Linked DNA regions of Homo sapiens. The protein of the gene in region 1 interacts with the protein of each later gene in a biochemical or structural test. Each region holds a gene or a part of one and is shown on either strand. Other genes may lie near its edges. The genes, in order: ACTG1, GZMK, WIPF1 and COTL1.

What was found.
Region 2: of the proteins of ACTG1 (region 1) and GZMK, one has a biochemical effect on the other in vitro, tested with the Homo sapiens proteins (one study listed by BioGRID).
Region 3: the proteins of ACTG1 (region 1) and WIPF1 form a complex in vitro, tested with the Homo sapiens proteins (one study listed by BioGRID).
Region 4: the proteins of ACTG1 (region 1) and COTL1 form a complex in vitro, tested with the Homo sapiens proteins (one study listed by BioGRID).

What each region holds. Positions count from the first base shown.
Region 1 is NC_000017.11:81,509,782-81,516,800, forward strand, and holds ACTG1 (actin, cytoplasmic 2), read right to left. Parts: upstream 3,019-7,019; 5' UTR 2,953-3,018; exon of another isoform or gene 2,834-2,952; intron 2,580-2,833; 5' UTR 2,574-2,579; coding exon 2,451-2,573; intron 2,362-2,450; coding exon 2,122-2,361; intron 1,846-2,121; coding exon 1,407-1,845; intron 1,328-1,406; coding exon 1,146-1,327; intron 1,053-1,145; coding exon 909-1,052; 3' UTR 190-908; downstream 1-189. UniProt on the Homo sapiens protein: Actins are highly conserved proteins that are involved in various types of cell motility and are ubiquitously expressed in all eukaryotic cells.
Region 2 is NC_000005.10:55,020,031-55,027,255, forward strand, and holds the start of GZMK (granzyme K precursor), read left to right. Parts: upstream 1-4,225; 5' UTR 4,226-4,292; coding exon 4,293-4,356; intron 4,357-4,629; coding exon 4,630-4,777; intron 4,778-7,225.
Region 3 is NC_000002.12:174,594,793-174,602,189, forward strand, and holds the start of WIPF1 (WAS/WASL-interacting protein family member 1), read right to left. Parts: upstream 3,013-7,397; 5' UTR 2,809-3,012; intron 1-2,808. UniProt on the Homo sapiens protein: Plays a role in the reorganization of the actin cytoskeleton. Contributes with NCK1 and GRB2 in the recruitment and activation of WASL.
Region 4 is NC_000016.10:84,608,055-84,615,078, forward strand, and holds part of COTL1 (coactosin-like protein), read right to left. Parts: intron 1-7,024. UniProt on the Homo sapiens protein: Binds to F-actin in a calcium-independent manner. Has no direct effect on actin depolymerization. Acts as a chaperone for ALOX5 (5LO), influencing both its stability and activity in leukotrienes synthesis.

The DNA.
Region 1 (7,019 bases):
TGCCTTGTTCTTGCACTTTCGATTTGGAAGAAATCGAACTGCTCAGTTTATTGTTAAGCCGTTTTCTCACCAGCCCACGAAGCCAAGCTGAGCAGCACCCACCGCCCCCACCCCCAAGACTACCCAATACTTCCAGGTTGGTCTGTCTTTCCCAGCCCACTTGCTACTTCCCCAAACAGGAGCCATTCATTGGTTACGGCAGCACTTTTATTTTTCCTTACACAATGACGTGTTGCTGGGGCCTAATGTTCTCACATAACAGTAGAAAACCAAAATTTGTTGTCATCTCTTCAAAGAATCGAGAATTGCGTACAAAAAAAACCTTACATAAATTAAGAATGAATACATTTACAGGCGTAAATGCAAACCGCTTCCAACTCAAAGCAAGTAACAGCCCACGGTGTTCTGGCCAAAGACATCAGCTAAGAAAGGAAACTGGGTCCTACGGCTTGGACTTTCCAACCCTGACAGACCCGCAAGACAAAACAACTGGTTCTTGCCAGCCTCTAGAGAAATCCCAGAACACTCAGCCCTGACACGTTAATACCCTGCACAGATCAGAGGCTGCTGGCCACACAGACTCACCAAGCCACAGACTTGTCTTCCACAAGCACGTTCTTACCTTAGCCACGAAGTGACCAAGCCACACGTACTAAAGGTTGAACTCAAAGATATGTACAGGGTATTAAACAAATACCAAGGGGAACAGTTAACTTCAATACAAGGTCAAAATCAGCAACAAGTTCTACAATCCAGTGCTGATATCAGATACAAGCTTCAAGGACAATTTCTTTTCGAAGGCTTATTCCAGTTTCGTGAGGCTAGCATGAGGTGTGTGCATTTGCCAGGGGCAAATTTCTATTCTCAATTAACCCATGCAGCAAATGCTACGCATCTGCTGAGTCCGTTTAGAAGCATTTGCGGTGGACGATGGAGGGGCCCGACTCGTCGTACTCCTGCTTGCTAATCCACATCTGCTGGAAGGTGGACAGTGAGGCCAGGATGGAGCCACCGATCCACACCGAGTACTTGCGCTCTGGGGGTGCGATGATCTGCAAAGACAGCCAGGCACGGCTTCAGCTCACAGAGCGCCCCCCAGTCAGCTCTCCCGAGCCAGGCAGAGGGCCACCAACCCCTCGACTCACCTTGATCTTCATGGTGCTGGGCGCCAGGGCGGTGATCTCCTTCTGCATCCTGTCGGCAATGCCCGGGTACATGGTGGTGCCGCCCGACAGCACCGTGTTGGCGTACAGGTCTTTGCGGATGTCCACGTCACACTTCATGATGGAGTTGAAGGTGGTCTCGTGGATGCCGCAAGATTCCATACCTAGGGGACAGAGCCCTCCCTTAGTGATGCTGTGTCACCGAGGATGTAAGAGTAGAAACCTTTAGCTCACAACACCTACCCAGGAAGGAAGGCTGGAACAGCGCCTCCGGACACCGGAACCGCTCATTGCCAATGGTGATGACCTGGCCATCGGGCAGCTCGTAGCTCTTCTCCAGAGAAGAGGAGGATGCGGCGGTGGCCATCTCCTGCTCGAAGTCCAGGGCGACGTAGCACAGCTTCTCCTTGATGTCGCGCACGATTTCCCGCTCGGCCGTGGTGGTGAAGCTGTAGCCTCGCTCAGTGAGGATCTTCATGAGGTAGTCGGTCAGGTCCCGGCCAGCCAGGTCCAGACGCAGGATGGCGTGGGGGAGGGCGTAGCCCTCGTAGATGGGCACCGTGTGGGTGACCCCGTCTCCAGAGTCCATGACAATGCCAGTGGTGCGCCCAGAGGCGTAGAGGGACAGCACGGCCTGGATGGCCACGTACATGGCCGGGGTGTTGAAGGTCTCAAACATAATCTGAGAAGGGACAAGGGGCGGCTTAGTCAGGGACAGAGACCCACGGCCACCCCATGCTCACACGCCACAACATGCTGCATGCCAGTGTGATGTGTGGAGAAAAGAAAAGAACGCAGGCAGAAACCAAATGAGAAACCTGGAGGCTTCAGGGAGGAAATGCCGGGAGAGGAACAGAGCCTGGAACAGCGAAAGAAACACTTAAATGTCAGAAATCAAGCCGGGCAGAAAATGACTGGGGAAAGGACGGGAGGAGCACGGGCGTCGGCCGAGCCTCACCTGAGTCATCTTCTCTCTGTTGGCCTTGGGGTTCAGGGGGGCCTCGGTCAGCAGCACTGGGTGCTCCTCCGGGGCCACGCGCAGCTCGTTGTAGAAGGTGTGGTGCCAGATCTTCTCCATGTCGTCCCAGTTGGTGACGATGCCATGCTCAATGGGGTACTTCAGGGTCAGGATGCCACGCTTGCTCTGGGCCTCGTCGCCCACGTAGGAGTCCTTCTGGCCCATGCCCACCATGACGCCCTGCAGGGGACGACCCGTCAGCCTCGCCGGCGACACCGAACCCACCCCGCAACGCAGAACCCAGGAGCCCCGCGGCGCCATCCACTCACCTGGTGTCTGGGGCGCCCGACGATGGAAGGAAACACGGCTCGGGGAGCGTCGTCCCCAGCAAAACCAGCTTTGCACATGCCGGAGCCATTGTCAATGACCAGCGCGGCGATCTCTTCTTCCATTGCGACCTGCCCGGAAAAGGATGGACTCAGGCGGGCGCGTCTGTAACACGGTCCCCTCCCCACAGCCACCTAATGCCCTCCCGCGGGGAAGCCTCGGCCCTGCCCCAACCCCAGCGGCCGTGGCCTCCAAGATCGCAACCGCCTGGAACCGAAGGCCGGGCCTTTTACGTAACGTCCACGGCTCGGAAGTCTGCACTGCGGCCGGGCCCCGCCCTGGACCCCCGGCGCCCCCCCAGCCCCGTCCGCCTGACCCGGCCCACCCCGCCTTTTGTTCCCGGGGAAGGCGCGACGAGGCCTCGGCAGCTGGAAGCGGGGCCAGCCGGGGTCGGGGGGCGCAGGCCTGCGACGTCCAGCTCAGGCCCCGGGGCGGGGCGCTCACCGGCAGAGAAACGCGACGGCGGAGCGGCGGAAGAACAGAGTGCGAGAGCTGGCAGCGGCGACTGAGACCGACCGCGGCCTCCCCCGCCGTTATTTAAGCGGAAGCGGCGCGCCCGCGCGGCCCGGCGGCGCGCGCGGCCCCAGAACATGTCCATATATGGCGATCTTTCCGAAAGCCGGGCACCCATTGGCCCGCCGGGCAGGGACACGTGGGGCCCCGGCCCGCCCCGCCCCCAGCCCGCACCGCCTCCCAACGGCCCCGCCCGCGCCACCCCCGCGCGCTCGCGACCCTGCGCGGGCCGGCGGGCGGGTCTGAGTTGGGGCGCCCTCCGAGGGTCGCCGGGAGGGCCGAAGGGCTGACGGGCCTGGCCCCTCCCCGGGACTGCCGCGCCGTGGGGAGGGCCCTGCTGCGCCCCGAAACTGCCTGACCCGGGGCGGGGCCGCGCCGGAGCTGGGGTGGGTCCCCGAGTCCCCGGCCACGCTGCGGGGCTTTGCTCCCTGGGACGTCCCTTGCAATCTTTCCCCTCGGGCTCCACGAGGATCTCGGGCGCCAGTGCCGGGCTGAGGAAGGGGCGCGGCGGGGGTCCGCGACGCTCTGCGTCCCTGGGCGCGGGGGAGCTCTCAGGAGCCCTCACCTCGCCCCGGTCACCATAGGAAACAGCCCGCCCGTCCCCAAGCGCAGCCACCACCATGCAGGTCCCTCCACGGGGCGCCCTGCCCCGGATCTCCGTTCGTTTGAAGACCGAGGCCCCTTTCTACCCGACCCGACACATCCCTGCCCCTCAAATCACAGGCCTGATTGTCCCCAGGCGCGCGCTCCGGGTTGGGGCTACCCCGCCCCCTTATGTGCTGAGAAGGTGGTGTGGAGTGAGGCCTTTGTTTCATTCTGGTCACCTGTAGACATTATAGGGAAACTGAGGTAGACAATGGGAGCCCTGACTTTTTTGAAGGTCGGCTCCCCAGCTTCGGGCGGTCGGGGGGATACCCTCTTCTGTTTACGATGCTAGTTAAGAGCAGCGATCAGGGCTGGCGTGGGTTTAGCCACAGGCTTGTCCAGGGCGCTCACTCCTCGCCAGGAGCGGCGCCGGTGCTTTGGTTACACCCCGAGAGGCGCCCGGCACTACGGTTTCCTTGTGCGCTGCTGGAATTTTCAGGGTTGGAGCGCCGGCCGCGTAGGGGTGGCAGTGAGGCCGCGCAGTGAGGGGACGGACTCGCCCGAGGTCGCAGAGCGTTCAGATTGACTCGACAGGCTGGGGGGCGGGGCCGGGGTCCCCACGCGGAGTCCGGGGCCCTGCAACGTTAGCTCGCGACCCCGTGTTTGGGAGTGACAACAGCGAGTCAGGGCAAGGCGGCCGGCCCAGCTCACCTGCGGGCTGCAGTCAGCCCGGACGCCGAGACCCGTGCCTAAGGCCCCCGTGCCCCAGGCCTCCCAGGGGTGCTGAGCGCCCCCAGGCCCAGAATCTCCGGGGGCCCGGGCAAGGCTGTCAGGTATGTTCCCTCCCGTGGCGAAGCCGGGGCTGGGCCTCCAACAGACCCACCCGGACTCGCGTCCCTGGGCAGAACCACACAGCCTGCTCGACCCCCGGGTGAGGACTTCCACTTGGGGGGTCCCAAGATGCGACGTCACACACCGAGGGACACGAGGCGGGTGGGGAATAGCCACAAGCCCCTCCATCCTGCGTTCACCCCACACTACGTTCTGCTCCGGGCCGGCCGGGGACCCTGCCCCTCCGGGTCTCTGGTCTCCTCCGAAGCTTCTTTGTCTAGGAAGTGCGGGGAGGTGCCGGCCCCGGGCGCGCGTCCCCGTCCCCCACCTTTCTTCCCCACGTTGCGGACCCGAGGCCGCCAGGGTCGTGGGGGCGGGGGCGAGGCTGGCGCCTCGAGACCCCCGGGTTCCCCGCCACCCGCAGGGCCTGAGCCGCGGGGAGGGGCGGGGAGGGGACGCCGCCGCGGGCCGGGGGTGGAGAGCGACTTCCTCCTCCGCGGCCGCGTCACGCGGCAGGGGTCAAGGTGTGGCCCAGGTACGCGGCGGGGGGCGGTGGCGCGGCCATATTTGGCGACTTCGGCGCCGCCGGAGCCCCGCCCGCCTCCGCCGGGAAGCCCGGCCCGGGGCAGCGCCATCCCCGCCCGCCGCCGGGCCTGAGTCACGGCGGGCGGGGGGCGGAAGTAACGGACGGGGGGCGCCCGCCCGGCGCTCCTGGCCTTATTTAGTCAAGGAGGCCGCCGATTGGCGCGCGGGACAGAGGGGCGGCGGCCGGGCAGCCTCGGGGCGTAGGAGTGGCCCGGCGCCTCCGAGGGGTCGGGGCGGGAGCCGGGCGTGGGGGGCCTCGGAGCCTGGGGAGTCCCGGGACCGACGGCGGCGGGGATGCGGGTCTGCCTGTCCCTGGGATGCGGGCGGGCGGGCAGGGCGAGGCCTGGAGCCCGCGGGGCGCAGGGGGCTGGACCGCGCGCTGTGATTTTTCTGTTTAGCAGCGGGGCCTCGCCCAAGGTCGCGCGGGGCCTGTCCTGGATATGCTCTGGGAAGCCAGTGGCGCAGGGCAGCCGCCACCCTTCTGGAACCAGTGCCGGAGAGGGCCGGGCAGCTGGGCCTGGGGAGGGGACCGCATGGATGGAGCTGGGGGTAGCTGGGCGGCCTCCGGAGCCGGGAGAGTCGGCAGCTGCACTTCCGCCAGAGGTGGGTGTGTCCTTCACATTTCAGGAAGGGAGACTTGGGGCCTGGAGAAGCGATGTGATTTTTCTTTTCTAGTTCAGTGCTGGTTTTGATGGCTTTTTATCATGACCTTGTTATGTCTTATTTTAGTTTCGGCCCATTTAGTGGATACGACAACAGTGGCCCAGGGAGGTATGGCAGAGCTGAGGCTTAACCCAGGGCCTGCGCCCTCCACGGCCTGCACTGCCCCACCTCCAGCTCCTTGCCCTGTTCCTCCCTCTGCACCGGATCAGCCCCCGGACTCTGGGTCACCTCCACACCAGTTGACAGGGCCCCCCAGTCCCCACCGCCAACCACCTGGCCGGCTACTTGTCAGACAGACATGGGGGCGTGGGCATGGGTCCCCACCCCTAGCCTTTGCCTCTGTCACTCTACCTGCCTGGAATGTCTACTTTTTCTTTATATTTTATTTTATTGTATTTTTGAGACAGTCTCATTGTCGCCCAGGCTGGAGCGCAGTGGCGCGATCTTGGCTCGCTGCAACCTCTGTCTCCGGGGTTCAAGCGATTCTCGGGCCTTAGCCTCCCGAGTAGCTGAGACTACAGGCGTGCACCACCATGCCTGGCTAATTTTTGCATTTTTGGTGGAGACAGGGTTTCACCATGTTGGCCAGGCTGGCCTGAACTCCTGACCTTAAGTGATCCACTCGCCTAGGCCTTCCAAAGTGCTGGGATTACAGGCGTGAGCCACCTCACCCAGCCTGGAGTGTCTCATCTTCCACCACTAAATGAAACGATGGACCCTGAACAGAAAAAGGAACAGTGGTGGAAGAACTAGCAAAGCCCACAGCCTTGAGTTTGGCCGTAAGTATCAAGGTTAATCTCTCAGTTATGGCAGTTGTCCCATGACCGTGTAAGATGCCAGGTTAGGGGACACTGGGAATAGAGCATTGGGAAACCTTCCCACTGTCTTTGCAACTTTTCTGTAAGTTTAAAGTTCTCCCATAATAAAAAGCTAACTTGAATCCAAGGCAAGCAAAGCTTCCCTACTCTCAGCCCACCTCCCTCTTCTCCCACACCCTTTTGGACAGATGAAATGCAAGGTGATGGCCCTGTTTCCTGAAGCTCTTTCCAGGGCCTGGCTGGCTCCCTTGGGCAGGTCTGGAGTGGGCTCTGCCTCTTCAGGAACAGTGGTCCCAAGGCTGGTCCCGGTGGGCAAGGCTGGTTTCCTGCAACTCGGCCTGGCTGCCTCTGAGTTTTGGCTCAAGGGACAAGGCCAGGGTCCCACACTTCTGTCTCCTGGCTGGTGCCCAGCTTGGGGCTTGGTTCTCCTGCCCCACTGCGCAGACTGAAGCTCAGAAGGCTCAGCTGGCTGCCCCCCACCCCACCCCTGCGGAGTCACTGGGCAGCTGGCTGTGA
Region 2 (7,225 bases), on another chromosome or scaffold:
CCCATGTGGCACTTTCCTCATCCCACCCATAACATTTGAACTTAGTTAAAATGAACATCAAAGCCTGCTCTAAAGAAGAAAAGAAAAAGGAGTCATAAAAGGGCAGTGTAAGGCCTGGAGACAAAGTTGAGATAGGGACAGTGTATGACCAGGCAGCCAGCACCAGCAGTGCTGGGACATCCCTATTTGCCAAGTCCTCAAGGTATTTTCCTGATTACTCCATATGTGAGGATCCTGCACTTAAGGCAATTCTCATCCATTCCAGTCACTTCATAGCTGACGTGGAGAGGAGTAAAGGAAAAGGAAGTTGAAGTACTATTGTGTGACTTAACTCAATAATGATGGTTTAGAAAACGTATCTTCATATTTATGAAAGGAAGATTTAACATGCAAAATATATTCTGATTTAAAGTTGAGATAGAGGAAGACAAAACAAATTTCCCTCAATCTCACCTTTGCCACCACCATCATTCCACCAAGAAGAGGCCCTAGAGCAGCCCTCTGAAGTATTTACATTTAAGTTGCTTAGGAAAAGGCAGTATTCCAGGTGCCCCAACCCTTATTACAGCCCCAGCTCTGAGTTGAGGGGTACTTTGCTTTCCTTGCCAACTGCCCTTAAGCTCATTCATTTTAAGGACCTAGTGGGAGGGATGGCTGTAATCTGAGGTGAGATTTACATTTTCTTGAGAACTTCGGACTTAATATCATTATATAGCACCCCAATATCCTTCCCAAGCCCAATTTTCAAAGCTGCCATAGTTTCACTATGGGTGTTAGCAGATACATTTACCAAATTAGCTAAGCCATTACTGGACAGAAGTCAAGGCCTGAAGGGTGGTGGGCTACAAGGGAGGGATCCAGTGAAATTCTGCCAAATCCTGATGTCAAGTGCCAAGGGCTGGGGATGGTTGGATAGCTTGGGAAAACTTGATATTGAGAACATTTTTCAAAGGAATGTAAAAGGGAATAAATGGGAAGAGCTTGAAACAAATCTGCTTTGCACTTATGTCTACAGAGCAGTGTTTCTCAGACTACCTGTGGGAAAGACCAATGTGTTTGGAGTTTTAGTTTGTTAATTTGTTTGTTTTTAGTTTCAGCCCATTGTGAACTGATACGTTTATACAACACAAATAAATAGAAAAAAGTAATTAAATAAAAAACAAAGGCATACAAAATACACACCCAATTTTTATTAGATTGGACAAATTTTATTTCATTAATAAAATAAATTAATACAGTGCCATGTTAAGTCGCTGTTACAGTTTCTAAACTCTGGCTCTCAATTTCTGTCCCCATCTTGCTCCAAATCGGTAACAAAGAGGTTCGGAGACTGGCACAGGTCTGCGGGCCATGCTTTGATTGGCATGGCTCTAGGGGGTGTGGCTTATAAATCTGACAGAGCAGGTGTCTGGGCTGTTGAAGAAAGGCAGTCCAAGGGATAGAACCACACGAGGCCTTTGGAGCAGTGGCACAGCTGTTCTATAAGGGTCTCCTGAAACACAGGAGAAGCAGAAACAAAACATCTCTAAGAGCAGCAAGAAAGACAGCTAAACACAGCAAAGAAGAGCCACAAGGCTATGACGTGTGAAGCCAGCCCTCCTCTGAGCACAGCCTTGCACTTGCTCAGTCCGGTACAGTTGCTGTAAAGCCATCCAAAGCAAACATGGCCCTCCCTGCAGCAGACTCAACAGAACAAAAACCAACACCCAGAAATAAATTAGATCGCCGAGCTCATCATGTTACACAGCCCACTGTTCTCAAATCCAGAATCGTGAATATAATAACAAATGATACTATTAACTGGCAAATCGGTCTAAAGCCAAAACCAAATAACTCATTACTATTAACCAACATGATTCTCAGAATTTTCTAGGTCAGCTACAAGAAAGAGTTATGAGACTCTTCCCAACTGAACTAAATCTCACCCATGTCTAATTACACGCAGTGTGTATGGCTAAATCCTTTTTCTCTTCTGCACAGCTAGCTTGTGTCTCAGAGCCCCTAAACCCCCAGGGACTTCTCAAAGGAGGCAGGCATGTAGCCAGGTTGAAAGGAACATAGAGCCGGGAGCCAGCACATAGGAGCTTAAGGGCCACCTGCTAGCTCGGTAATCTCAAGCAAGTCCCTGAATTTCAGTTTATTTATCCATAAAACAAGACTAATGACAACCACTTCCCTGGAAATACAGCTAAAAACGTTCAGCAATTTGTACAACGCTATGTGGACATTAATCCTTACTACTCAGAAATAAGCAGCTGAGAGATGTTTGTAACCATTCCCATTTCCCCCGCCACACACACACACACACACACACACAAAGCTTCGTCCTTTACAATTTATTTCTTCCTTAGAGTTTGGATCACTTCTACCTGTCACACACCATCTTCCTTACGATCCCAGCATCACTGGGATGTAGCAGGGAACTGACGCCATCCTGTCTGCCTTCCAATGTGGAACAATGGCACACAGTAGAGCATCCAAGGTACATCAACAGTGACAAAGATGACTTGAAAATTCACAGGGACATTTGAGTGGGAGTAATAAGTTTGGTTTATTAAGCTTGTGGCTTTTCTTAATCTGGCTCCTCCTTATCTCACCTTCTGCTCTGACAGGAAGTCACTGCTCTGCGTTGGTTTTGTTCATTCTGTTTAACATGTAGAAAGCTTTACTGTTGCCACACACCTGTACAAGGAAAGCAGGTTTTTTATAAAATTCTGTGTTCTGGGAGGGTACTCATTCACATACAACTTAACATACAGGGAGGTCAGGCAGGTGATTTGGTCTAGGTCATAAGCTGTGTTGCCTTGGGCAAATTACTTAGCCTCTTGGAACTTATTTCTTCCATTGTAACATAAGTTGTCCTGCTTTCCTCAAAGACATAGACATGAAACCATAAATGATCATATAAAAAGAATTTTGGAAATAAGGTATTTTACTTATATATTATTAAGTTATAATGAATAATACATAATTATAGTATTATTTTTTATTATTCCTACTCTTTGTGCTAGAAAACAATTTGAAAGGAGTCTCTTGCAATCTGCCGAGCATAATAGCTCTGGATTTTAATTCTCCTTTCTAAAATGAATGGAAGATAAAATGCATACCTCTTAAAAGAAAGATCTGTTGATTTAATGCAAATTTTGATCAGTGTTACTAGGAAGTGATTGGCATTCTGATGCGTGATCTGTTTGTATTCATTTTATATTTGCACTGCTGATCAGTGTCTGGCACAAACAGAATCTTGTAGAATCTTGAGTCTAATACCTTTTGTATTGAAGGCCTGGCAATGCATTGTCATCTGTTCCTGGGAAGAATTACAAAATGCAGTCCTTTATTTTTAAAAGACATTATTATTAAGTCCCTGGAAAAACACATGGCCATTTTCAATTAAAAATGAGTAAAAGAGAGACTCTGAATCAAAAATAGTTGCCAATGTTCACCTTTAACAACATTATGAAATCTCACAAAAATGTAACTAAAATTTAACCAAATTTGGGCAAACTTAGAGAAACGACATGAGTAGGGATGTTTGCTGCAAAACATATGGTTTTCTCTGGTTGGTGCTCAGGCTTTAGCTAAGCCACATTGTGAAGTAACCATAATCTGTGCAAGGTCCATGTCTCTCTTCATCATAAATCTATGTCCAAATGAAAAAGAGAGAAGAATGAAATATGATAGGCACCATTTTGTGCCAGGAAAAATAGTAAGTATTGCTTGAGAGCAATGGACATCTTTGAACTCTGTCTGCAACTTCATTACATTCTTATGGCATGGATATTTTTCATTTATAAATATTATATACACATATAGTATAAATTTTCTTTATAGCATAAGTACTCTGATACAGGTATTAGAGATGGTATCTCCAGATATGAGTTCTTTATGGCATACATACCTCTCCCAAAAAAGTGCTAAAAGCAATTAGCCGGATGTGGTGGTGGGCGCCTGTAGTCCCAGCTACTCGGGAGGCTGAGGCAGGAGAATGGCGTGAACCCAGGAGGCAGAGCTTGCAGTGAGCCGAGATCGCGCCACTGCACTCCAGCCTGGGCGACAGAGAGAGACTCCGTCTCAAAACAAAACAAAACAAAAAAGTGCTAAAAGCACAGACCTGAAAGTCCCCAAACTGATACATAACGTTTACACCTAGGTGTGAAAAAAAATCTTACCCCTAGAGCACCTGTGGTGAGAAAGTCAAAACTTACAAGAACAAAACTCAGTCTTCAGAATCTTCTTCCTTCATCACAGGATCAACACATTTCATCTGGGCTTCTTAAATCTAAATCTTTAAAATGACTAAGTTTTCTTCCTTTTCTCTGTTTTTCCTAATAGTTGGGGCTTATATGACTCATGTGTGTAAGTATCTCCTATATCTACATGTAAACATTAAATGAATTTCTACTGACTATATTGTTATATTATAGATGAAAATTATTTTCACAATCATTCCTATCTTTCTGAACTGTAATGTATTATACAAATTTTTCATCAGTAAAATTATTGTAGCTTTTAGGTAGGGTTATTGTTGTTTTTTAAGCTTTGAAAATAATATAGTGACTGTCATTGGAAGAATTACATGAAACAGTAGTTTAGATCTTTTGTGTGAAACCTTTTGGTCTACTTTTGTAGGTTTCAATATGGAAATTATTGGAGGGAAAGAAGTGTCACCTCATTCCAGGCCATTTATGGCCTCCATCCAGTATGGCGGACATCACGTTTGTGGAGGTGTTCTGATTGATCCACAGTGGGTGCTGACAGCAGCCCACTGCCAATATCGGTGAGTCCTCCACACTTTTCCAGACATGTGTTTTTTCTGAAAGTTATTATAGGTACAAGAGAAGCTTACCTCTCCTGAATGAGAATTTGATCTACTGTTAGCTTCTGTGGTTACTGACCAACTGGTGGCGTTTATTTACCTTCTTCCACATCCACGCTTTCTGTCTTGGGTTTTCCTTTTCAGAGAGAACTGAGCTGCTTTTCCCAGGCAAGACATTAGACAAATTCAAGTCCTCTGTATAATGCAGGGAACACAGCAACAGTAATACTTGAAGCAGCAGTACTCTTGACCTTGTTAGATCACACTGCTCAAAAGGAAATCAGACAACCTGAGCTTGCTCTGTGCTCTGAGCTTCCCCATTTTACAAAGGGGTAATAATCATATCATACCTGCTTTGTGGGTTTTGAGAATTAAATAGTATCTGTTTAAGTATTTTAGCATGCTTGGCACATTTAGTAAGCACAAAAAAATTGCAGCTATTATCATTAGTATTATACGCATGAGAAGCCTACTTTGCCACTCCTAACAGTAGCTACCTAACAGTAGCTACTCACCACTTACAACTTTCCTAGGTGGAAAAAAACAAGTTATTGATGACTTCTAGAAAGAGAAAGATAATGAGAGAGTTATTTTCTAGGATACTTAGAATGAAAGCTTTTCTGAAGACAGAGTAAAACCTTCCAAAGTCCATTTCAGCCTAGGATTCTCTTACTTCAGCTAATAAAGCACAAAACCCCTCTTGGGATGCTGCAACCATCACAAAAGGAAATGCCAGTAGAAAACTAATTTGGTATTTGTTGTTTTGTTTGTTTGCTTGGGTTTTTGGTTTTGTTTTTTGTTTGTATATATGTTTCCTTATGTTTCTTACCTAATAAGCTGAAATGGAGCCTTCTCCTTTTCTTTCACTTAAAGATCTCTCTTAGCTGTAATGGTTTGCTCTCCAGGCATTGTCTATATCTAAACAGAACAATTGAATTGATTTGCTTTTCTATGCTTTGGGGGTTTTGTCTGATTACCCCATTTAAATGGAACTGTTTGATCACAAATTGGAAGTTTTGAAGCCTGCAAACTGGGAGATCTTCTGCTATCTCTAAATAGCAAGCCACTGATTTCCAATTTAATATGGTTACTTCATTTACACAGGGTTCTTGCCCTCATAGAAATCACACTCTCATCCCCATCACTTCTCTCTTCTCCAGGGCATTTGCCCCCTCGAGATCAGAGAGACAGAGTGGGGAACTGTCAGCGAATGTTCATTTGATGCAAAATATGCACATCTTCAAATATGCTCATAATACACATTCAAATGGTCTATAACCTCCCCAGACACAGAGCTTGACTTCTAAATGTTCAACAAACTTTGGATGGAAAGAAAGAAATACACTGAAAGATCTTTCTTTCTTTCTTTCTTTCTTTGGCTAGGCCTGAAACATGGTGTATGAAAAAGTGCTTCACTAGCCATAAAGTGTTATAGGAAATTAAATAATATCACTAAGTTGAATTTTAAATTTTGTCAAGTGGATTTAACTCACGAGAAGCGGATTCCCAAATTGGGGAAAGAGATTATTGACAAAAGACTGGAGAGAGGTCTTGGAGTTTTTTGTGTTTTGTTTTTTTTTTCTTAAAACAAACTATTGCTAAATATCATTTTAAATGGCTGGGGTATAAAGAACTGCAAAATATGTAGATCAAATTTCCTCTACAGGACACTTGGGTGTAAAAAGTAGGCAGATCGGTGGTTGGAAAAATATTAAGCTTTATGAAATTCAAAATATTTACAAAATAGCTCAATGGTGGCTTCCCACAAATGTACTCCCCAGTATCCTGTGGGAATAGTTTGCCCCAAGCCTCTCTCTCAGCAAAATTTTGAAGAGGGCCAAACCTGGGAGTGCTCCCTTCTCACCAGCCATCCACACATCTCCTCCCTCAATATTCTGGCCCCTTTATTAGTTGCCATGTCAAATATAAAAGGAAATTGATAAAAAATGTCCTGTACAAACTTATTTTCAGCATTTTAACTTACCAGAAGCAAAACTCTCACCAGCTGTTGTACCCTGTTCTCCTGATTCTCTCCCAGGCCCCTCTCACAGAGCACTTCCTCCTGCCCCAACCTGCCTAGCAAGTTGTTAGATGGAACCTTCCACAGCCCCTTCCACATGGCCTCACTCCATCTCAAATGCTCAAGGCTCCTGGAACAAAATGGTTCAATGTTCAGGCTCTAGATTCAAGCCAACTGAGCTTTAATCCTGCCCGAATTTGCCTCCTGGAGGCAAAGGTCCTCAAGTTTATTCGTTTACCTGAACCTCAATTTCTTCATCTATAAAATGGGGATTGTCATAATACCTATCTCACCACGCTGTTGTGCGGTTTAAATGAGGGAAGCTTTGTAAAATGCTTAGCACAGAACACAAAGAACTTAATAGATGTTATCGAGTATTGTTATACAAT
Region 3 (7,397 bases), on another chromosome or scaffold:
TATAAGCAGAAGTGTCACCAAGTTTACCTCTGAAGAAGTGAAAAGACTTAAAAAGGAAAATATCTTACTTGAGATTGTTAGTTTTAAAGATATTTACTGTTGCTGTGACATTTAAAGCAAAACATTTGTAATCTCAGATTCCCAAGGCCGGAAAAGCACCTCAAGAAATCATACTGGCTGGGTGTCGTAGCTCATGACTATAATCCCAGCACTCTGGGAGGCCAGGGTGGGAAGATAGCTTGAGCCCAAGAGTTTGAGACCATCCTGGGCAAACATAGTGGGACCCTCATCTCTACAAAAAAAAAAAAAAAAAAAAAATATATATATATATATATATATATATATATAATTAACTGGGCATGGTGGCACACATCTGTAGTTCCAGCTACTTGGGAGGCTGAGGTGGGAGGACTGCTTGAGTCCAGGAGTTTGAGGGTGCAGTGAGCTGTGATCATGCCATTGCACTCCAGTGTGGATGACAGAGCAAAACCCTGTCTCAAAAAAAAAAAAAAAAAAAACAGAAAAGAAAAAGAAAAACAGAAATCATACAATTTATAATGTTGCTTCCAAGCTGCACTTGTGAAAAAAAGCTCTTACAATTCAGATAACTTCCTCCACATTTAGTTGTTAGGTGGCCTTGGGTAAATTACTTAGCTTATGTAAGTCCGGTTTTCAAAATAATAGCACCTACTTAGTAGGGTTATTCAAGAGTTAAATGAAGGAGTGCTTAATAAGTATTAGCCATTTTCAAAAAATAAAATAAGCAAAGGTGAAGAACGTAACACAAAATAAGTGGTCAGTAAATATCACAGTCTTTCCCCCTATTTAACCACGAGAAAGAGAAACCATGAGCTGATTTAAATCAGCCTATGTGTGTACACCCATGCAAACTTCCATATTACAAGTGAATGGTGAAGGGAGATGTGTATAAAGTGCATTTCAAATTTCTCAGAAAAGCATACTGATTAAGGCATTCCTTATTCTAGTATTTTTTTACAGTTTTAATTTTCAGGACAGACAGAGGTATTTATGGAAGTCCAGGAGAAATGCTTTCTTCAACAACAAGCACATGTTTAACAATTTGGACAAAATGAGTCAAACCTTAAAGCAGAAATATATCATAATTTAAACAGCCAGAAACTTCCAAAGTAAATGATGTGTGTTCATAAAATGTTAAGAAGGCTTCAAAAGGTCATAACACTTAAAGGGTCCAGGAATTCAGTATCACTTCATCTCATATTTTAGGTAGGCTGGGGAACTTCCAGCCTACAGGCCAGATTTAGAATTTGATCAGATCTGAAGTTGCTGCTCGATCCCAGGAACTAATTTTCACCACAGGGAGTTCTCTGAATATTTCAGTCCACCCAGAGTATGTGTAACCCTTAAAAGGTTAGATATTAGAGTAGCTGAAGCGCTATGAGCAAATAGCCCATGAATAAACTTTTCAAAGAGCAATAGAAAACCTGACTTAGTGAAAAATGACTTTCAGGTAAGTCATTTAATGACCTTAGACTGATAAAAGGAAGAGTTTTGACATGATGATATTCCAGTACAGAAGAACAAAGCTTGATAAAGTTAACACATAGCACTGTAGTCCAAGTGAATTGTAAGAGTATGATTTCCACACAGATCAACCTCAAAACCTTTTCCCAGTTTCTCATCTTCCTTTCTCACTGTCCTGTCCTATTCTTTCCCCAGTCTTTCATCTTTCTCTCTACCAAGCTGTCTTACTTTGCTTAGTTAGAATCTTTCAGTAGCCTTTTCATTTACCACCTCTCCATTCTCTACTACATATACTAGTTATGCCATTAAATTATTTAAAATAACTTGTATGCCTGTAATCCCAGCACTTTGGGAGGCCGAGGCGGGCAGATCACTTGAGGTCAGGAGTTTGAGACCAGCCTGACCAACATGATGAAACCCTGTCTCTACTAAAAATACAAAAACAAAAAAAACAAAAAACTTGTACTTAGTGACTAAAGTTATATGTGCCTTCTGAGTTTTTTAAAGCTTTATTTTATATTTCTTCACGGGGAGAAAGGAACATAAGTCAAATTGTTTCTTCCTACATATTCTAGAAAAAAGTTTTTTAATGTAAAAAGTTTCCTTAGTTCTGCTCTATAAGCCTCTGAGTAGATGGCTTGAAATTTTAAAAATCACAATATTTTATGCCAAAACATTAATCATATTAAACATAAAGTTATAACTAATGCTGTAGAATTTGATTTGCGATAGTAATTGTGCACACACTGTTATAACAGGAATAGACTTATTCTAAAAGACAAATCGTATTATAAAAGACTCTGCTTAGAAATGGTTTAGTTTGAGTTTTGAACTTAAATAGCACATTGGCAGCAACAGAACTGCAACAGCTTAGTTCCATGGTATTTTCGTTTGAAGCTTCCAATGGCTCCTTGTACTTTAAAGCACTTATTGTTGCTGGCCACACCAAAGATTCAAAGGCAGTTGTGTGGACAACTGTATCATACACCAAAAGGATATATTTACCGACATAAGCCCCCAATTTAAATGGGAAAATAAATTCCTGTGGATCCAAACTTGTCCAGTGGTCAAAAAAATTCTATTGAAAATCTTGCTTACATTTTGGCTCAAAGCATAAGTTATGAATCATTCACAATCACCATAGTGGTGAAACTAGCATTCTGGGCAACAGGAATAGCTCACATGGTGCTCTACAGAAAAATTAAACAACTTTATCTTGACATACTATGGTCCATTAAAAGCCATTTAGTTCTTCCCTGTAGCTGATAAATGAAATAAACTTAGTTTGAATATAATTTTTCTTACCGTTAAAGGGTACTGCAGGGAGCCATGGTCAGGGACACAGGCAGACAGAGGGCCAGCGGGACAGGAGCCAAGAGAGAAAACTGTCCCTGAAAAAGGTATCATCTTCTAACGCAAGTGTGGGGTCGTTTTTGGACAGCCATTTTGGACAAGCTCTGGCCTCTTGTTAAATGTGACATACTGAGTCAGAGGCAGACGTCCTTCTGTGGTTATTCGCTTCCTGTCTGATTAATTTGTTGTTTGTTGTTCCTTCCTCCTTTGCTGCAGAAAAAGAAACTAGATTGGTTTTGCTTAAGAAGCAAGCAAGAAAAAAAACCTAAATTAAAAAAAATTAAATGTTTCTCCTCCCCACAAGGTGTAATACACAGCTATTTGGTACAGTGACAAGAGGAGATGAGCACCTCCACTCAGTGAAGAGTCCAACTTTATTCTAGATATTCCCACAAAAATAACTGTTCATGGAACTTGAGATTCCTTTAGGAAAATTATATTTGAAAGTATCACTGTAAATACTGACTATTCCATTGAGTAATAGGGAAAAGAGTCACTCAAGAAAGAAAAGCTCTTACCTACCTTACCTTATCGCTTCATTAGGCTAAGGGCTTCTTCTCATTTACAGGGCATTCAAGTGTGTGGGGAGAAAGTTACAAATGCAGGTAAAGAGAGCAGGTCAGGTGTATGAAGGCAAATGAGGTTCTTTTTTTGGTTTTGTTTTATTTATTTCTTTTTTTTTAGAGAGACAGTCTTGCTGTCACTTAGGCTGGAGTGCAGTGGCGTAATCATAGCTCCCTGTGGCCCTGACCTCCTGGGTTCGAGCAATCCTCCAGCCTCAGCCTCCTGAGTAGCTGAGACTACAGGCATATGCCACTGCACCTGGCTAATTTATTTTATTTTTATATTTGGTAGAGATGGGATCTTGCTTTGTTGCCCAGCCTGGTCTTGCACTCCTAGCTTCAAAGTGATCCTTCCATCTTAGCTTCCCAGATTGCTGGGATTACAGGCTTGAGCTACCATACTTGGCAGCAAATGAGTTTTGAAACGTGATTTTGGTGCCCAAGTCAGGGTAATAATATACAGCTTAAGTCAGCTGCAGATCCATAGCTTTCTATGCCAAATGTTTCTGTCCCCCACACTTAATGGGATAACAGTAACTCTCCTAGAAGATGCTTGACAAAAGCATAGAGATAAAGAGGGTGGAAGGAAGAAAGTCAGATTTCTCATTATTAAAGAACTCAAGAGGTGGATGGCAATGGAATACATGTAGAAAACATTTTATCAAAACCTTGAGTTATGTATAGAACGATCTGAAAATGCTCATAATTTTTTCTTAACCCATCTTAAAGGTTCAGACTTACATATGCAACACATAGTATATAACTCTGAGAAAACAGTAACAGTCAAAGAATTTAAAAGAGAGGCATATTTCAGAAACTAGCTTCATTGTAAAATCTGAATGTTGGGTCCTGATTCTGCTAGGATCAGAGGCCAGAGGCATGAAAAGAACGTATGTTGTCTAACATTGCCTTACCTGTAAAGTGATGGAACTGGGCTAGATGAGTAATTTTCAACTCAGGTAGCTGTTGGGGGTGGTGAGCAGTGAGTGGGAATGGTGGGGGCAGGGGCCTGTAGCATTCAGTGGGTGGGGCCAGGAATGGGAAATTTCCTATGGTGCTTATGACAGTCCCACCCAAAATACCAGAAGTGCTCCTACTGGGGAGTACTGGGACAGATGATGTCTAAGGATCTTTTAAACTCAAAATTCCCTGAGATAGGAGTCTAATTGCATGAGCAGATTCATGATGCCAGGCCATGGGCACAGTTCCTGGAGTGGAGTACCCAAGAATAAGTGACTGAGAGTCCTCTGCTTTGCCTGGAGCCCCTTGAAGGCAGGGACCGCCTCTTGTCTAACTCTGGCCTGGTGTCCACCCGTGACTTAGGTCACAAATAAATACCTGCAGGCATGGGGCTGGACAGAGGTGGAGGCCTACAGCTATCAGCCACTTCCCGCGATACAAACCCTCAGGAAAACAGAAAACTTGATCAACTATTAAGTAAATGCCTGAGTGAATCTTTGGGGAAGTCTAATTATAGTTGGGTCTAAAAAGAGAACATGGGCGATATGACAATTTCTCTACGTATTTTCAGAATTATTTTGAAGTTCTCTAAGTAAGACACCCCAAACACACACACACACACTCTCTCTCTCTCTCTCTCTAGCTATCTCTCTCTCTCTCTCTCTCTCTCAGTACACATACCATTCATGGCTATTTCCATCCCTTAGGGGAGTGGTCCCTAACCTTTTTGGCACCAGGGACTGGTTTTGTGGAAGATAATTTTTCCACGGAGTGGGGGCAGGGGGTGGGGATGGTTTCAGGATGAAACTGCTCCAACTCAGATCATCAGGCATTAGATTCTCATAAGGAGCTCGCATGCACAGTTCACTTTAGGATTCTTGCTCCTCTGAGAATCTAATGCGCAGCTGATCTGATAGGAGGCAGAGCTCAGGAGGGAACACTTGCTCACCAGCTGCTCACTTCCTGCTGTGTGGCCTGGTTCCTAAGGGGCCATAGACTGGTTGGAGACCCCTACCTTAGGAAAAGCTCACTTAGAAGGGAGTATGTCACCTAGAAGGCTGCAGTCCCCAAGACATGCAAGGGAGTAGTTGTGTAGTTTGAGTCTATTCCTACAGTCAACTTTGGACACATTTATCAGGTGTCTACTATGCATGTTAGGACATAAATTAGATAATGTTCCTCCCCTGCTTAAAACCCTCCAATGACTTCTCATTTCACTTAAAAAGTCCAAACTCTTAGGTCCACAGGGACCCACGAGATCTGGCCCCTCCTTAACTCTCTGCCTTCATCTCAAGTAATATTCTGCCTTGCTAATTTACCTTCCAAATCTTTCTGTTCCTTAAATGCACCAAGCTCATTTGCATCTTCAGGCCTTTTACTTGCAAGCCTGGTACTCACGCCTGGTACACTCATCTTTTTGTTCCTTTTTATTCTTCAAATGTCAGCAAAAATGCTCTCCCTCATGACCCATTTCTGCTGTTTTCTTTTATGCATAGCATGCGTCACCGCTTGACACTGTCTTATTTATCTGTTTATTTACTTGTATGTTTCTCTCCACTAGAATTCAAGCTCTATGAGAGCAGGGACCTTGTCCATCTTGTTTCTGCTGTTGCTTCAGCATCTAATGCAGGTGTTTGACTGCTGTTGCTTCAGCATCTAATGCAGGTGTTTGAAAATAGTGTTTGTTGAATGGAAAAGAAAATCAATGTTTCTTACGAATTCTACTACAGCATAATGTTCCTTTTTTTTTTTTTTTTTTTTTTTTTTTTTTGAGACAGAGTCGTACTCTGTCACCCAGGCTGGAGTGCAGTGGCATGACCTTGGTTCATTGCAATCTTCACTTCCCAGGTTCAAGCGATTCTCATGTCTTGGCCTCCCTAGCTGGGACTACAGTCGTGCACCACCACGCCTGGCTAATTTTTTTTTTGTATTTTTAGTAGAGACGGGGTTTCGCCATGTTGGCCAGGCTGGTCTCCAACTCCTGGCCTCAAGTGATCTGTCCACCTCAGCCTCCCAAAGTGCTGGGATTATAGGTGTGAACCACCACGCTGCCCAGCATAATGTTCCTTTAAAAGCTTAAGACTGTTCCCCCTGAAATGGTAAATAACAAATGCCAAGACTAGACTTAAGCCTTCTTGGGAGAAGCTGTTAAAGGGAAATTTTCCAGAGAAAAGGTCAGCAGGTAAAACCCTTGGCCCATCAGTGGGCCTGGCAGTGCAGGCAGAGTCTTATGCAGTGCAGGTGGCTTACACCATTGGGCAATGTGAAGAGAAAAATGGATTAAGAAAATTGAAAACAAATAGAACAATCAGAAAGGAAGGGGGGGAAATAAAAAGATAAAGAAAATAAGGCAAGAAAAGCTGGAGATGGGGAGAGATCATGTGGTGGGTAGAGGAGAGCTACAACCACACTGCTGACCTCAGAGGCTTTGGAAGCCACCTCTGCAGTGGATGACCCACAGGTGCTGGATGTAACAGTGCTGTCTGGCCTTCCGCAGTGAAGCGGAGTTCTCAGCTCAGTGTCAGCTTTTCCAGCAGCCACGTTCTTTAAAAAGAAAAGAACTTTAAGGCTGCAGGAGACTTGCAGAGATCAAAGTCTACATCACCACTTACAGAGGAAGAAACAGGGGTCCAGAGAAGTTAGGCATCCTGCTCATGTCACACAGCTGGCAGCAGCAGAGCAGTGGCCAAAGCCTGGGCTCCACTCCACTGTCCAGCGCCATTAATGTCTTTAGCCTCATTTCAGGTTCGGGTGATACCACCTACCTCCTTTCTGTAAGTACAAGAAGAGGCAGAAGAAAGAGGGTGGAGAGAAAGGCTGTGATGCGGATGGGAGAGGTTGTTATACTATAACCAAAGGCCTGAGATAAGTGGATTGAAAGCCTGGATGAATAAAGACAATCACAATTCTGGACTTAAAGAGAATTTTAAATGCGTATCTCTTTCCCATTTAATATGCATCAGTCTGAGCTTAATGACAGAGTAAAACAATAACCAATAGGCTCGCAGACCAATCACA
Region 4 (7,024 bases), on another chromosome or scaffold:
CTGGAGGGAGGTAAAGTGGATCAGAGACAAAGAAATGACCACTAAATCTGGCAACTGGAATATTTACCAAAGACCTAGACATAGAGCTCCATGCTCTGGGTGTGGGTGGGCACCAGAATGAAATGGGGTAAAGAAAGGATGGGAGACAAGGAGGTATTTATAACACCTATAAAATCTGTAAGGGATGCTTTCAAAAAGTTTGCATTAACTTCTGAATATTTTCAAGGGACAAAAACCCAATTCACCTAGTGTTTAGGGAATGCTTTTTTTGAACTTGAGACACTGTACTTACCAGGAAGATACACATCTATCATCCTTCATCATTTTCTGTTTGTGGTGACACAGCCACAAACAGAAAAGAAAGCACAAACATCACCATGCAGTAGACTGAAAGAGCTACCACAAAGCCCACGCCCCTGTGGACACACAAAAAAGCTATGCAGCGTGGCTCAGGGCCTCCCAGCAACAGATCTGTGGGCAAAGAAGGCAATGGGAGACTGGATAGTGCAGAAAATTACAAAGGTAATGTTTTCGCAGCCCTTCAGGGTACCACTTAAAAACAAAAACCCAGCCGGGCGGGGTGGCTCACGCCTGTAATTCCAACACTTTGAGAGGCCAAGGCAAGTGGATCGCTTGAGCCCAGGAGTTCGAGACCTGCCTGGACAACATAGTGAAACCCTGTCTCTACAAAAGATACAAAAATGAGCCAGGCGTGGTAGCAGGCGCCTGTAGTCCCTGCTACTGGAGACGCTGAGGTAGGAGAATCGCCTGAGCTGGGAGGCAGAGGTTGCAGTGAGCCAAGATCGTGCCACTGCACTCCAGACTGGGTGACAGGGCACGACCTTGTCTCAAAAATTAAATTAAATTAAAAACCCAACATTGTTTCTGGAGCAAAGTAGGAACCCAATAAAATGTTTGTCGCATGCATTAACGGACAGACTGTTCAGCACTTTATAACTGCCCAAAGCCCTGTCACAGATTTGGAGCTTCTTTTTGATGTCACATTCCCTTAGACCTTAGGAAAGAAAGCAATTTCTCTCCTTCCCTTCTCGCCCAAATTTCTGAAACCCGGGTGTGTATGTTCAGCTAGGGAAAAAATATTCAGGTGCAAAACAGCACGATAAATAGACTGCCGGCTCTCTGTGTGTTGTATTGCCATATACGCAGAGGTCATGGACAGCAAGTGAATTTGACTCCTTCGCATTCCAGCTCCCTTCTTTTGGTCGCTATACTCCAGTTTTCCGTAGGAACCACCTCTCTGCCACTCTCAGTCTCTGTCATCCAGGTAGGGCTGATGCCACCTCCAAGAGGCATCCCCTAGGCCTGCACTAAGGCCAGTCAGTCTTCCTGGAGGCATAGCAGGCCAGAAAATGGGGCTGTGAGACAGGAGAGTGCAGAGGCAAGGAAGGCCTCCTTCAATCCTTTCTTCAACATCTATGCCAAGTGGTTAGTCGGACTCTCCTGACATACCTCCTGTGATGGGGGCCTCACTTTCTCCTCTGGTAGCCCGTTCTACCTTAAGGGCCTCTTCCTCTCCAGGTCAACCCAAAATCTATCTGATATGGTTTGGCTCTGGGTTCCCACCCAAATCTCACCTTGAATTGTAATAAGTGTCAAGGGCAGGACGGGGTGGAGATAATTGACTCAGGGGGGCAGTTTCCCCCATACTGTTTTGGTGATAGTTCTCACAAAACTGATGGTTTTATAAGGGGCTTCCCCCTTCACTTGGCTCTCAGTCTGTCTCCTGCTGCCACGTAAAGAAGGATGTGTTTGCTTCCCCTTTTGCCATGATTGTAAGTTTCCTGAGGCCTCCCCAGCCATGCAAAACTGTGAGCCAATTAAACCTCTTTTCTTTATAAATTACCCAGTCACGGGTATTTCTTCATAGCAGCGTGAGAAGAGACTAACACACTATCCCTGAATTCCTACTGCGTGGTCCCATTTACCACATAGGGTTGGTGTGGGGGTAGGAACACAAGAAGTCCACACTTACCACATGACAGCCCCTCAAACATCTGAAGACAACACTGGTGTCTCCCAAGGATCTCTCCTCTTGGTCTCACAAGGTTAAATATGCCCAATTTCCTCAGTCAGTTCTCACATGAGAGGCTTTAAATTCCTTGTCCAGCCTGGATTCTCCTCTCCTCTGAGACTGTGTCCAGCTGCCTAACCTGGAGACTATGGCCAGGACTCTTTTAGATGGAAACTAAATCCAGAACCCACTCACACTGGCCTGAGAAAAAATATTACTTGGCTCATGAAAGTGAACCGTCTAAAGAGAAAGCTTCAGGCATGGCTGGATCCCAGAGTTTTCTGGCACGTCACCTGTCTCCACTCCCACCACCAGGCTCTGTTCCTGAGTTCTCAGACAGGTACTCTCTATAAATGGTAGACATGCCCTGTGAGCTCCAAGCCCTCATTATTCTTATTTGTTTTAATCCCAGAGAAAGATAAAAAGACTCTTTACCAACAACTCTGTCCAAAGTCTCAGGGATGAATCTGATTGGCTAGATTTGAGTCACAAGGGCCCTTGAACCAATCGGTTAGCAGAAGAGTGGCTTGCTCTGATTGGACAGGTCTGGGTTATGTGCACTCTCACAGGAACTACATTGGTTGACCAGGATTATTATGAAATGGAAGGGAGAGGTTCCCCCAAAGGAGGGAATGCTGGACAGAAAAAAAAACATCAATCTCTACATCTCTCTCTGTGGTGTTTTGGGTTAAACACTACTGGCTGACCAGAGCCTCATGGGAATATCATCTCCACCCAGACCATCATCCAACAAATGTCACAGGGCACCTGCCTCCAACCAAGCATCTTCATGATGCTGCCCTTCATGAAGAAGCCTTTTCTGGTAACCACCCCACATCTCAAATTTATTTCAACCTATCCATTGATATGTAACACCTTCTGAAGGTGCTACTTTAACAATAACCACATTTATTGAGCTTTACTCTGTGTCAGGCAGTACTCTACAAGCATTATATGGAACAAGCCAGTTTATCCTTACAGCAACCTACATGCAATCATTATCCCCACCTTTACAGACGAGAAAACACAGACCCTGGGAGATCTGCCCAAGGTCACACAGCACAGCAAGGCTATCGTTCAAAGCAAGACGCCCCAGCCTCACCACTGATGCTCTTAACCAATCAGCTCTAAAATCTGCACCAACAGAAAACTGGACTCATTCCCAGATGCCTGGATTCCTTCTAAAATAAAACTGCTTGCAACACATAATTTGAGGTCCATGGATAGAGGATTGCTTTAACAATGTCACATTTGTATGAGAGAAACTACGTAGCCATTTTTAAACTGGTATTGCAGAAGAAGAGGGGAAGATAGGGAAGAAACTTTGGCATTACAGTTGTTGTGGGAGGTGGCTCTAAAATATCTATGATCCCCTTTTGTAGTAGAATTACATACAGAAAACTATTTCAAGAATATAGATAAAAATGAGACCAGCGGTCTGTCCTGGGAGATGACAATAAAATGTCAGCTCCACGAGGACAGGCGCCTTTTCTGCTTCTGTATTTATCCTCAGTGCCTACAGTCGTGCCCCACAGAGTAGCAGTCCCATATGTCGAATGAATTAAATGAATAAACAGGAGAATGAAGGAATAAACACAGGAAGGAACAAGTTCCTGAGTGTTTGCAAAACTATATCTGAACTATATCTACTTGGTATTCTCTTCTTTTGGTTTAGTCTTGCTTTATGAGTATGCCACAGAGAATATGTATTATCTGAATGGTGCAGAAACAAAATGTGATTTCACAGACAGCCCCAGCCACTGCCTCGCCACACATACGTGATCTGTAAGCCCTTTCTGCTGTGGCCAGGTAGATCATACAACCGGTCTGGCAAATGGCCCCTTTCCCTCCACCTCTGCCAGCTGAGCCCTGATTGCTCCAGGCTCCCAGTGGCTCTGTCAGGTGAACCTGTGACCCTCCAGCCCAGCTCAGCACCCATTTCCTTCCCATCATCTCTCCCCCTTCCATCTTCTTGGTGCTCTTGAACGCTACTTCCACATCACTTGAATTCCAAAAACAAAAATGGCAATCGCAGTAATTGACATTTATGGAGTGCTCACTATGTCCCAAGCAGCATAAGGACTTGCTTCCTTAATCCTCCTAATGACCACACTGTAGCAGGTTACCAGATGGGTAACTCACCTGCTCCAGAGCACATGAATGGCAGGTATTTGAACCCAGGCAATCGGACAAAACCCAAACCTTGAACTACTGAGCTAAGCACCTCTCATCATGCTCCTTCATGCAGACCCGGGCCAAGGGTCTAATGCGTGTCCACATGGGGCCAAATGCCTATTGCATACCAGCCTGGGCCAGGTGCCTACTTTGTGCTGAGTGGGGACGTGTACTGAAAGCTTCCGAGTGGAAAGCATAATGCCTCTACGAGTGCTATCAGAGTAAAAATAATTATTTGAGGCCGGGCGCGGTGGCTCACGCCTGTAATCCCAGCATTTTGGGAGGCTGAGGCAGGTGGATCACCTGAGGTCAGGAGTTTGAGACCAGCCTGGCCAACATGGTGAAACCCCGTCTCTACTAAAAATACAAAAACTTGCCGTGTGTGGTGGCACATGCCTGTAGTCCCAGCTACTTGGGAGGCTGAGGCAGGAGAATCTCTTGACCCCGGGAGGCAGAGGCTGCACTCCAGCCTGGGCGACAGAGAAAAACTTTGTCTCAAAAAAAAGAAAAGCAGTGGTAGGGGTAGCCAACACACACCGTGGCCTGTGCTCTCATTTTAGGTGCATTACTTCAGTGAACCCTCCCAGTCACCCTCAGAGGTAGGCATGTCAGGATTCCCATTTTACAGACCTAAAAACTGAGGCACAGAGGGAGGGAGGCACTTGCCCAAGGCCACACACACAATGAGTGAGAAGCAGAGCGGAGATGTCAATCTAGAATGACTCTTTCTTTCTTTCTTTCTTTCTTTTTTTTTTTTGAGATAGAGTCTCACTCTGCTGCCCAGGCTAGAGTACAACAGCGCGATCTCGGCTCACTGCAACCTCTGCCTCCTGGGTTCAAGTGATTCTCCCGCCTCAGTCTCCGAGTAGCTGGGATTATAGGCGCCGGCCACCATGCCTGGCTAATTTTTGTATTTTTAGTAGAGACAGGGTTTCACTGTGTTGGCCAGGCTGGTCTCGAACTCCTGACCTCAAGTGATCCACCTGCCTTGGCCTCCCAAAGTGCCGGGATTACAGGCATGAGCCACGGCGCCCGGACTAGAGTGTTTCTGATTCCAAAGTGTACTCAGAGTTGAAATGAAGAAGGAATCACACTAAGCTAGGTGGGTGGCTGAGTCCTAAATGAGTTGAGATGGGGAAGAGGAATACCGCATGGTAGAAACCTCCAAAATCAAAAGCACCAAGACGGGAAATGTTACAGTGTTGGGCTGCAGATGTGTGAGGGAGGGTGTGTGGAGCTACTAGAGAGGAGATATGGGTGGGGACAAACCGACTAGAAAGCCAAGCAGACAGCATGAGTGTAATCCAATGGGGCAGAAGGGAGCCATAGAAGGTTAATGAGCAGAGGAGTGACTTGATTAGAAATGTACTGTAGAAAGAATTACCCCAGCAAGGGAGGACAGAGTGGATACCAGACAAGGAAGATTAAGGGCAAATAGACTGTTGCTATGAAGAGGAAAGCAGAGATGTTAAGGGGCAAATGGACACTTTTGTGAAAGTGGCATGCCATTCTTCCCTAGGAAGCCACCTCCTCAAGTCAGTCTCCTGGTTTGAGTGGGGCTGCCCCGCCCCCCACCCACTCCAGAGGTGGGCATGTGATCCAGGCCTGGCCACGCAGAGTCTCCATGATTGGTCTAGGGATGGGCACATGACCTCAGGGCCAAAGACAGTCCAGGGACCCCCAAAATCACTGGCAAAGAGGCTTGCTCCGTCTTTCCACCAAGATGGCTCTGCCCAGGGGCTAAACCTCCCCCCTCCCCGCAAGAATGGAGGTGAAGGATGAAGACAGAGCTAGGAGGAGGAGGAGAGGCTGTTTGGAGTTCGGGCAGTCTTTGCTGCTGCTAGGACTTCCCCTGGAGTTTCCAGGCTAGAGGCCACAGTGGATTTTCTGCTTACATTAATCTGCACTGGGCATTTCTCACCGCCCTCGCAAGGTCTCTGACCATCCCAGGCGAACTGAGCTATGGAGCAAGAAGCAAGAGCGGAGGTAGCGGAGGGGCAGGCAGCGAGGAAGGCCGGGAGCCAGGCAAGCTCGGGAAGAAGCAGCGCAGACCCAGAGCAGGCAGAAAGATTGGGAGGATGAGTGCGGGGGTGGGAGGGAACTGGCCTGGCAGCACAGACACCCCGTGGCCCTCTGGAAAACAGCTCTGAGGGAGGAAAGGCCAGGCCAGGAGGCTGGGAAGAAATGAGGAGGGGAGGCTGGGTGGAGAGATCCCATTCTGGAAAGCCGTGGGGGAGGAAGGGGAGAAGGGACAGTAGCCTGAGGTGGGAGGGCCAGGGAAGGGGGTGTTTCAGAGAGAATGCCTGAGTGCCAGAGTGGGGAGGGTTGGGAGAAGAGCAGGACCCCAGGAAGGCCCACACCCTGAGGTTATAAGGAAGAAACTGGGTGCTGTTTCTGGCCTTCCAAGTCTGCTGGCCACCTTGTGAGATGTTTGGAAGCAGGAAGCCCGAACCAGAGTGGAACCTTTCTTCTCAGGCCTGTCAGGATACCTGGCAGGGAACTGGGGCCACAAAAGAGCCCTCTCTGAGTCACAAGTGGGCAACCATGTCATTTGCAACCTGCAAGCAATCCCACGAGAGGTGAGAATCTAAACAACCTCCTCAGAAGCCAAGAGCACCTGCCCCGAGCCAGCCTGCCTGGGTTCAAGTCCCAACTCTGCCACTTTCTAGCTGGGTGAATGCAGGAAGCCTATTAACCTCTCTGGGCCTCCGTTTCCTCATCTGTAGAATAGGAGTAACCTTAGTACCTGCCACACCAGGCTGTTCTGAGGTATGACCAAGATAAGGCACGTCGAGCGTGGTGACTGCTATCCAGCCA